2 separate regions of the Homo sapiens genome follow, and region 1 is linked to region 2. The links come from fine-mapping of genetic effects on plasma protein levels. A gene starts in region 2. The other region holds a variant in brackets. All regions are shown on one strand. Distances are between the middles of the regions.

Region 1 (5,382 bases), 41 kb after region 2:
AATAAAAAAATAAAAAAATAAAAAAGCAGGGGTTGCAATCCTAGTCTCTGATGAAACAGACTTCAAACCAACAAAGATCAAAAGAGACAAAGAAGGCCATTACATAATGGAAAAAGGATCAATTCAACAAAAAGAGTTAACTGTCCTAAATATAGATGCACCCAATACAGGAGCACCCAGATTCATAAAGCAAGTCCTTAGAGACCTACAAAGAGACTTAGACTCCCACACAATAATAATGGGAGACTTTAACACCCAACTGTCAACATTAGACAGATCAACAAGACAGAAAGTTAACAAGGATATCCAGGACTTGAACTCAGCTCTGCACCAAGTGGACCTAATAGACATCCACAGAACTCTCCACTCTAAATCAACAGAATATACATTCTTCTCAGCATTACATCACACTTATTCTAAAATTGACCACATAGTTGAAGGTAAAGCACTGCTCACCAAATGTAAAAGAACAGAAATGACAACAAACTGTCTTTCAGACCACAGCGCAATCAAATTAGAACTCAGGATTAAGAAAGTCACTCAAAACCACATGACTACATGGAAACTGAGCAACCTGCTCCTGAATGACTACTGGGTACATAACGAAATGAAGGCAGAAATAAAGATGTTCTTTGAAACCAATGAGAACAAAGACACAATGTGCCAGAATCTCTGGGACACATTTAAAGCAGTGTGTAGAGGGAAACTTATAGCACTAAATGCCCACAAGAGAAGGCAGGAAAGATCTAAAATTGACACCCTAACATCACAATTAAATGAACTAGAGAAGCAAGGCAAACAAATTCAAAAGCTAGCAGAAGGCAAGAAATAACTAAGATCAGAGCAGAACTGAAGGAGATAGAGACACAAAATCCCTTCAAAAAATCAATGAATCCAGGAGCTGGTTTTTTGAAAAGATCAACAAAATAGACTGCTAGCAAGACTAGTTAAGAAAAGAGAGAAGAATAAAACAGACACAATAAAAAATGACAAAGGGGATATCGCCACCAATCCCACAGAAATACAAACTACCATCAGAGAATGCTATAAACACCTCTATGCAAATAAACTAGAAAATCTAGAAGAAATGGATAAATTCCTCGACACGTACACCCTCCCAAGACTAAACCAGGAAGAAGCTGAATCTCTGAATAGACCAATAACAGGCTCTGAAATTGAGGCAATAATTAATAGCTTACCAACCAGAAAAAGTCCAGGACCAGAAGGATTCACAGCCAAATTCTACCAGACGTACAAAGAAAAGCTGGTACCATTCCTTCTGAAACTACTTCAATCAATAGAAAAAGAGGGAATCCTCCCTAACTTATTTTATGAGGCCAGCATCATCCTGATTACCAAAGCCTGGCAGAGACACAATAAAAAAAGAGAATTTTTGACAAACATCCCTGATGAACGTCAATGTGAAAATCCTCAATAAAATACTGGCAAACTGAATCCAGCAGCACGTCAAAAAGCTTATCCACCATGATCAAGTCGGCTTCACACCTGGGATGCAAGGCTGGTTCAACATGTGCAAATCAATAAACATAATCCATCACATAAACGAACCAACCTCAAAAACCACATGATTATCTCAATAGATGCAGAAAAGGCCTTTGACAAAATTCAACAGCCCTTCATGCTAAAAACTCTCAATAAACTAGGTATTGATGGAACGTATCTCAAAATAATAAGAGCTATTTATGACAAACCCACAGGCAATATCACACTGAATGGGCAAAAACTGGAAGCGTTCCCTTTGAAAACCGGCACGAGACAAGGATGCCCTCTCTCACCACTCCTACTCAACATAGTGTTGGAGTTCTGGCCAGGGCAATCAGGCAATAGAAGGAAATAAAAGGTATTCAATCAGGAAAAGAGGAAGTCAAATTGTCCCTGTTTGTAGATGACATGATTGTTTATTTAGAAAACCCCATCATCTCAGCACAAAATCTCCTTAAGCTGATAAACAACTGGAGCAGTCTCAGGATACAAAACCATTGTGCAAAAATCACAAGCATTCTTTACACCAATAACAGACAAACAGAGAGCCAAATCATGAGTGAACTCCCATTCGCAATTGCTACAAAGAGAATAGAATAGCTAGGAATCCAACTTAGAAGGGATGTGAAGGACTTCTTCAAGGAGAACTACAAACCACTGCTGAATGAAATAAAAGAAGACACAAACAAATGGAAGAATATTCCATGCGTATGGGTAGGAAGAATCAATATCATGAAAATGGCCATGCTGCCCAAGGTAATTTATAGATTCAATGCCATTCCCATCAAGCTACCAATGACTTTCTTCACAGAATTGGAAAAAAACTACTTTAAAGTTCATATGGAACCAAAAAAGAGCCCACATAGCCAAGAGAATCCTAAGGAAAAAGAACAAAACTGGAGGCATCACGCTACCTGACTTCAAATTATACTATCATGCTGCAGTAACCAAAACAGCATGGTACTGGTACCAACACATAGAAATATATATATATATATCTGTGTTGTTATATATATATGTGTATATATA[C/T]GTATATATACATATGTGTATATATATGTATATATACATATGTGTATATATATGTATATATACATATGTGTATATATGTATATATACATATGTGTATATATATGTGTGTATATATATGTGTGTATATATGTATATATATATGTGTGTATATATGTATGTATGTATGCATGTATACACCAGTGGAACAGAACAGAGGCCTCAGAAATAACACCACACATCTACAACCAACTGATGTTTGACAAACCTGACAAAAGCAAGAAATGGGGAAAGGATTCCCTATTTAATATATGGTGCTGGGAATATATATATATGTATGTATGTATGTATGTATATATGTATGTATACACCAATGGAACAGAACAGAGGCCTCAGAAATAACACCACACATCTACAACCAACTGATGTTTGACAAACCTGACAAAAGCAAGAAATGAGGGAAGGATTCCCTATTTAATATATGGTGCTGGGAAAACTGGCTAGCCATATGTAGAAAGCTGAAACTGGATCCCTTCCTTACACCTTATACAAAAATTAACTCAGATGGATTAAATACTTAAATGTAACACCTAAAACCATACAAGCCCTAGAAGAAAACCTAGGCAATACCATTTAGGACATAGGCATGGGCAAAGACTTCATGACTAAAACACCAAAAGCAATGGCAACAAAAGCCAAAATAGACAAAAGAGATCTAATTAAACTAAAGAGCTTCTGCATAGCAAAAGAAACTACCATGAGAGTAAACAGTCAAGCTATAGAATGGGAGAAAAATTTTGCAATCTACCCATCTGACAAAGGGCTAATATCCAGAATCTACAAAGAACTTAAACAAATTTACAAGAAAAAAACAAACAACCCCATCAAAAAGTGGGCACAGGATATGAACTTCTCAAAAGAAGACATTTATGCAGCCAAAAGACATGAAAAAAATGCTCATCCTTACTGGTCATCAGAGAAATCCAAATCAAAACCACAATGAGATACCATCTCATGCCAGTTAGAATGGTGATCATTAAAAAGTCAGGAAACAACAGATGCTGGAGAGGATGTGGAGAAATAGAAACACTTTTACACTGTTGGTGGGAGGGTAAATTAGTTCAACCATTGTGGAAGACAGTGTGGTGATTCCTCAGGGATCCAGAACTAGAAATACCATTTGACCCAGCCATCCCATTACTGGGTATATACCCAAAGGATTATAAATCATGCTACTATAATGACACATGCACATGTAGGTTTATTGCAGCACTATTCACAATAGCAAAGACTTGGAACCAACCCAAATGTCCATCAATGATAGACTGGATTAAGAAAATGTGGCACATATACATCATGGAATACTATGCAGCCATAAAAAAGGATGAGTTCATGTCCTTTGCAGGGACATGGATGAAGTTGGAAACCATTCTCAGCAAATTATCACAAGGACAGAAAACCAAATACCGCATGTTCTCATTCATAGGTGGGAATTGAACAATGAGAACACATGAACACAGGGTGGGGAGCATCACACACCCGGGCCTGTCAGGGGTCGGGGGCTAGAGGAGGGATAGCATTAGGAGAAATACGTAATGTAGATGATGGGTTGATGGGTGCAGCAAACCAACATAGCACATGTATACCTATGTAACAAACCTGTGTGTTGTGCACATGTACCCTAGAACTTAAAGTATAATAAAAAATAAAATAAAAAAATAAAATCAGGAACATAGTATCAACCAAAAAGAATTAGTTACTTCAGAGGATTGAAATTAAAAGAAAATTATGAAAATGTTAAAAAAAAAAAAAAAAAGGCAAAGACTTGTGAGGAGGAGTGTTTTTGCCCTTCTCCCTCTCCCTGTCTGGAGCTTTGATCCAATGCGGTAGCAGCAGCCATTTATTTACCAAGACAATGAAAGCTGAGAGCTAAGTATGGTGGAGCAGAAAGATGGAAAGATCCTGATTCCTTGATGACAACCTTTAGCAACTATGCTGGTTTTGGTCCACCCACTTCTGGATTTTGTGTTATGTTTAAAAAAAGCCTTTACTTTTTGTTTTGTTTTTTGATTCAGGGTCTTGCTCTGTCACCCAGGTGGGAGTGCAGTAGTGCAATCACCGCTCATTGCAGCCTCAACTTCCTGGGCTCAAGTGATCCTCCCACCTCAGCCTCCTGAGTAGCTGGGGCTACAGGTGCATGTCACCACACCTGGCTAAGCCTTTACTTTTTTGAACTAGTTAGTAAAGTGGCCCTCAAACTTAGCTACCCATTAAAATCACCTGTGGAGTCTTAAAGTTCCCAGTTTTAAGATCTCCCTATACACCCCCAAATGAATAGGAATTTTTGGTGGTAGGATCTAAGCCTCAATAATTGGAAGCAGGATTTCATTCTGTCTCCCAGGCCAGAGGGCAGTGGCACAACCATAGCCCATTACAGCCTTGAACTCCTGGTCTCAAACGATTCTGCTGCCTTAGCCTCCCAAAGTGCTGGGATTACAGGTGTGAACCACTGCACCCAGCCCTAGCTTCAATAATTTAAAAAACTCTCCAGCAGATTCCAATGTGTAGCCCAGATTAAGAACCAGTGGTTTAAACCACCTGTTTTGGTTTTTAATATTTTTTGTTATTCCCAGCTGGATACATTTGTAATTAATACATGTTTTGAAGCTATATTCAAAAAATTGAAGCACGTAAGTTCTCCCATTTCCAACCAGCTTCATCTCTACTCCCATCCCTAGCAGAATCATAATCCTCAGATTGCTGTACCTCTTTCTTCAAAATTTCTTCTCTGCATCTACAAATGCATATTAGTTTTCTATTACAAAAATCCTTCCAGGGGCTATTCAAGTGAGGCCAGAGAGGTGACATTGCCAT
Region 2 (5,322 bases):
CCAGACAGAAATTTAAAATATGGAAACAGTGTTTTTTATTCTGTGTCAGGGTTTTAAACTTGGTCAACCTCCCGGAACTGTATGCCTATTTTATACTTTAATCGGTTTATGTACATGTTCATTTTTCTGGAAAGGATCTATATTTTTATTAGGTCCTTAGAGAAGTCAGAGATCCCAAAAAAGTGCCCTGGGCTTTGTATCCTGCTTTACTTCTCCTTGTAAGTGATCAAATCCACAAGGCTGATTGTGTTCTTTCTCTAAATCACTTTGTGTTATGACTTCAGGATGCATCTTGAACTTTGTTTTCAAGTGAACTTTGTAAACAAGTCCTCAGCTTAAAAGACATTTTGAACTATATTAATAATAAATGCATCATAAAATTTCCTGTTTGATAAAGGAGGCATCTGAGATAATTATGCAATGCACTTAGCTACTCACATTTTAGTTATTCTTATTAATATCATTGATATTTATTATTTTTCAATGCTTCTCTGAAAGACCTGAGTATGGCCACTCTGGCTTTAAGAACTGTGTCCACAGTGCTAGCTGAGAAACCACTACCACATATTTTTTTAAACTCCAAACTTTACTAAGAATCAGGCTTGGATATAGGGCCTAAAAATCATTCAATTGGAATGTGAAGAAGTTGAAACACCATTACGCAAAAACCCTTTAGCATATGTGTATGTGTGTCTCCCTAATGTCAGGATGTACACATTTATTACAGTGGTTTGGAGGTTTATTTGTAATCTGACCTTTTGAAATTCTGGAGCACACAAAAAAAGTAGATCTTCATTAACAAGGATTTTTTTTTCTTTTTCTTTTCTCTTTTCTTGCCAGAAATTTAAAGATGTTTCTTCCTTCACTTCCTTCCTTCCTTGTACTGTCCTTGCTCAACGTGAATCTACAATCACTGCCACTTGAATGGATGCAACTTATGTTAATAAATTGCCAGGATCAGAACTCCCACTGCAGCATTTCCTTCTCCATAGAACCACTGAACCAGAAATGCATTCTAGTGATTTTTTTTTGTCGTTAACGATGATTAATTAAACAAACTCGAGATTTCACGAGAAAAAACATAGATGCCCAGATTTAACAAACTCCTTATCTTTTTTCGACTTAAACCCACGAAGCTTTGGGGAGCACTCTAGCCCCTGCTACTCACCCATGCAAGCGGGGTGCGCGCTCGCGCACACACTCACTCACTCCAAGATAGGGGCTTTCTAGGAAAATACTTTGAGCTGCCAATCCAAGATTTTACTTAAAGAATTGACTTGGTTCTCAAGTGACAGATCTCTAAGTGCCAGAGCGGCAAAGTGCACCAGGCTGATAAAGTGCATGCCAAGACTCTCAGGTGGGAATTCTTGTCACAGCCAAGAGGTTGCTGGCATAGGCACCCGAGGCTGGCAGAGCCTAGCCTCTGAGTCTCCCTACACTCCTGGGCTTGCTTTCCTTTTTGAAGCTGCCTGCAGCTCAAAGAGGAGTTTGAACCAAGGGCACTTGCTTCGCGATCCTCCTGGCAGAGCCACAGCTCAAGTTTCCCCCACGGAATCACGAGCTTTTGTAAAGGGCAGCGAGGAGGCAGCGAGGTGGCAGCGAGGTACAGTCGCAGAGTTCTCTGGAGAACGAACACCCCCGCCGCGCCCCACCCCCCAGGACTGGTGGAGACTGGAAGGAACGAGTCCAGACCACGGGACCTTCCCTGGCCGTGGGCCGACGCCTAGCTGTCCTTGACCTCCCCAGCAGTCGGAGGCGCGCGCGGGAGAAATGAAAGTAAAACCTGTCCTGGCGCGGAACCAAGTGGAAGCTGGCGACAAGTAGGTCGCATCCTCAGAGCGACTGATAGCCAGTCCTGGATCTGCGCGAAGAGCTTGACTCGCAGAGGATAAAGTGAAAGGAAAAGGAAATGGGAGACAAGGGAGAAGAACAATAGTTAGGCTGGGGAGGCTCCTGGTCACCGAGCAGGCGTTCAGTAATAGCTGCTGTCTGCGGTGCAGACGGACTAGTCGCCCGGCCAGGCCACTTCGGTGACTGCCCTGCGCCCAGCCGGGCGGCCGGATCCAGACCAGTGCGCCGCGCTGCACTCCTCTAACCCTCCGCGTCCCAACCCCTTACCAGGGCCAGGGTCAGGGCCCGGAATCTGTCCTCCGTCCTCAGATGGAATTCAGGTCCGCTCAGGTGACTCCTTCCAGGAAGAGTCCTTAAATAACTTCCGCGCGGCCATTTCTTCCCCAGGTGCAATGTCCACTGTTGAGTCCCGAGAGTGAAAAGGCAGCTAAGCCAGCAGTGCGCGGCCCAGACAGACCACTCTGGGCAAGGTCCGCGCGACCCACTGCCCAGCCGCCTTTGCACCGGAGCTCAGAGCCATATGGCAGAGTAGGAAGGAAGCTTAAAGGTCTGCTGGGGACCGGCTCTAAGATGGGGACTCGAGAGATGGGACATGACTCGCCCACCTTCACACAGCGAATTGCCGGGAGGTGAGGACTAGAAGCCTGTTTGGCTAGTGGTCTCGCACCTTTGGCCTCTCCGTCGAGTCGCTGGGCTTCAGGACATTCGATTAGAGGAGTGGTTAGTAGGACCCCAGAAACCCACAAGCACGAAGCAGGAAGCCCCGTGGCTTAGCCTTTCCTTCCCAGTTTGGCCCCCAGGAGAGAAGTAAGAAAGAGAAGAAGCTGTGATGAAAGAGCACAAACGGGTGACAAACGTGTCTAGCGTGATTCATCATGAACAGGCACAAATTCTTTGGGCGGGGGCTAGGACTCTCCTTTGCCCCTTGAGAAGTTGGTGACCCCAGCCTAGAGGAATCCACGCCGCGCCCCAGTCGGCCGTGCTAGCGTGTCGGGCCGAGTAGGGACTCTGCTGCTTCCTACCTGCAGGGTGACTTCCCCTCTCTGCAGATACCTCCCCTCTCTGAGCTTGAATTTTCTACCTGCTGAAATGGGAAAAGGAATGTTACCTTCCTTGCCTGACTCAAGGGTGGCTGTGAAGCTCAAAGTAGACTGGGATGTGGCCGTGCTTGGTAAACTGTAAAATGATTAGCATACGTGAAGCGTTAGTGTGCTCCCTGGCAGTCAGTCCTCACGTTTACGATGGATTAATGAAGGCAGCCAGGCACAATCTCAGGTTATGACCTTATAAGGCATAATAGGATTACAAGGAGGCAAAATGAAACAGTATATTTCCTCCTAATTTTGGTTATTCCTATGTTTCCAAATAGAAATGAAAATTCTGAAATTTCAGATAATTCCCCCCTCCAAATCCCAATTCTCAATTTAGCTTTTCTGAGCCTTGTCCCTACCGTGAAATCTTACTAGCTCACCCCGAAACGCCGGGGTCTTGGTCCTCTGGGGGACTAGTGAGTCCTGCTCCTCTCGGCTTTGCTCCGTCCCTGCCCCGGCCCCTCCGCGGGAGTCTGGGGTCGCGGCCCGGTCAGGCGCCAAGCCGGCAGGGGGGCGCGGTCCACTTGAGGCCACAGCTCCCCAGGTCCAGGGCTCGGGCCATCCGCGCTGTCCCTTCCGCGGGCTCTTGCTGTTCTTCGCCAGGAGGCTTTGCACTCCGGGCCGCATGGGTCCTGGATAAGGACCTCAAGAGGTTGTAGTGGCGCCCCTTCGCTCCGGCGTACTGTCTGAACCCTGTGCCCAAAGAGGGCTGTGGCAGTTCCTGCACCAACCGCCTGGAGCCCATACCTAAGCCCTCTGGGCACGAGGGACCTCCTCTCCCCCGCTCCCCCCTCCCCCCATCCCAACTCCAGCCCCAAAGGAAGCAATGCGCGCGTCCGAGAGCAGGAGCGCGCGTGGCTGAGGAAAGAAAGGGAAGGCAACCGGGCAGCCCAGGCCCCGCCCCGCCGCTCCCCCACCCGTGCGCTTATAAAGCACAGGAACCAGAGCTGGCCACTCAGTGGTTTCTTGGTGACACTGGATAGAACAGCTCAAGCCTTGCCACTTCGGGCTTCTCACTGCAGCTGGGCTTGGACTTCGGAGTTTTGCCATTGCCAGTGGGACGTCTGAGACTTTCTCCTTCAAGTACTTGGCAGATCACTCTCTTAGCAGGTAGGTGCCGCAGACCCTGCGGGTTAAGAGGTGGGGTGGGGGGCAGTGCTTGCCAAGGCCCTAAACTGGGAGCGCTGGGTGAGGGGAACAACCCACTTTGGAGGGTTCTCTGAGAGATAGATACACCCCATATCCTGGGCCCAGCTCGTGCACACAGCTGGAGGTCCAGAGACCCAGTCCCCTCTGCTCCGTCAGCCAAGTTCCAAGAAGTTGAGCAGAGACCCTCTGGGAGCCTGGCGGGGTGCAGCGGCCTCCCCTGCGGGGCCTGTCACCCGGCCGGCGCGTGCAAACGCCTCTGGCGCCTCTCTGCGCGGAGGGAGATAAGCGTCTGAGCCAGGGAAAGCGCGGGCTAAACCCGCCTCGCCGGGGCCCCTGCCCGCCCTCCGTGCCCCGCCCGGGCGGTGCAGCTGGCCCGGGTGCTCACGCTCGACTCTCTTTCTTCTTTTCCAGGGTCTGCGCTTCGCAGCCGGGATGAAGCTGGTTTCCGTCGCCCTGATGTACCTGGGTTCGCTCGCCTTCCTAGGCGCTGACACCGCTCGGTTGGATGTCGCGTCGGAGTTTCGAAAGAAGTGAGTCCGGGCAGCGCCTTCCCCCTTGCTGGTACCTGGCAGGCAAGGGGAACTGACCGTTGGTCCCGAAGGTCTAGAAGTGAATGGGAGCAGGGACAGGCCTGGGCGTCACCTGAACGCACGCGAATCGGGTCTGCTTGTGTTTTCCAGGTGGAATAAGTGGGCTCTGAGTCGTGGGAAGAGGGAACTGCGGATGTCCAGCAGCTACCCCACCGGGCTCGCTGACGTGAAGGCCGGGCCTGCCCAGACCCTTATTCGGCCCCAGGACATGAAGGGTGCCTCTCGAAGCCCCGAAGACAGGTAACTACGCCCTGTGCTGTCCAGGGACGGGAGGGAAGGAAGGTGTGCGGGAGGAGTTCTCTGTCTCCACTCCCCTGGCCCGGGGGATCGTCGGGGCTGGACCGCAGCTCAGATGGCGCGAGCAGTTTCCAGCTCCCTCTGGCTCTAGAATGGCTCCCGTTCCCGGTGTTGGGGCCAAAGCTCTGCTTGATGGGGTCTCAAGTTGCCTTTCTTCCCCCTCCCCCCGCCCGCAGCAGTCCGGATGCCGCCCGCATCCGAGTCAAGCGCTACCGCCAGAGCATGAACAACTTCCAGGGCCTCCGGAGCTTTGGCTGCCGCTTCGGGACGTGCACGGTGCAGAAGCTGGCACACCAGATCTACCAGTTCACAGATAAGGACAAGGACAACGTCGCCCCCAGGAG

Alleles and levels. Alleles are on the strand shown, and positions count from the first base shown. The strength of an association depends on the size of the effect and on how common the allele is.
In carriers of allele T in region 1, the plasma level of the protein whose gene starts at base 3,896 in region 2 tends to be higher than with C alone (moderate association).

The links. A credible set is the group of variants that fine-mapping cannot tell apart. PIP is the posterior inclusion probability: the model's chance that the variant is causal. The UK Biobank Pharma Proteomics Project read protein levels with antibody pairs (Olink). The fine-mapping took linkage between variants from a reference panel, not from the people measured, so its PIPs are less certain.
Region 1: its variant is the best candidate, but not a certain one, in a credible set for the plasma level of the ADM protein (UK Biobank, PIP 0.50).

The regions. Positions count from the first base shown.
Region 1 is chr11:10,341,950-10,347,331 of GRCh38, forward strand. All of the region lies in intron 2 of CAND1.11 (a long non-coding RNA gene), which reads left to right. Among named protein-coding and RNA genes, the nearest start is that of CAND1.11, 36 kb to the left of the region's middle. The variant C/T (reference allele first, on the strand shown) is at 2,533.
Region 2 is chr11:10,301,178-10,306,499 of GRCh38, forward strand. ADM (adrenomedullin) reads left to right here and starts at 3,896. Exons shown (of 4, transcript NM_001124.3): 1 at 3,896-4,052; 2 at 4,503-4,621; 3 at 4,772-4,921; 4 at 5,155-5,322. The coding sequence starts at 4,524. It also overlaps a transcript of SBF2 not described here. RefSeq lists enhancers at 1,604-1,683, 1,704-1,883 and silencers at 2,808-2,867, 3,358-3,457, 3,638-3,687, 4,368-4,417, 4,438-4,487.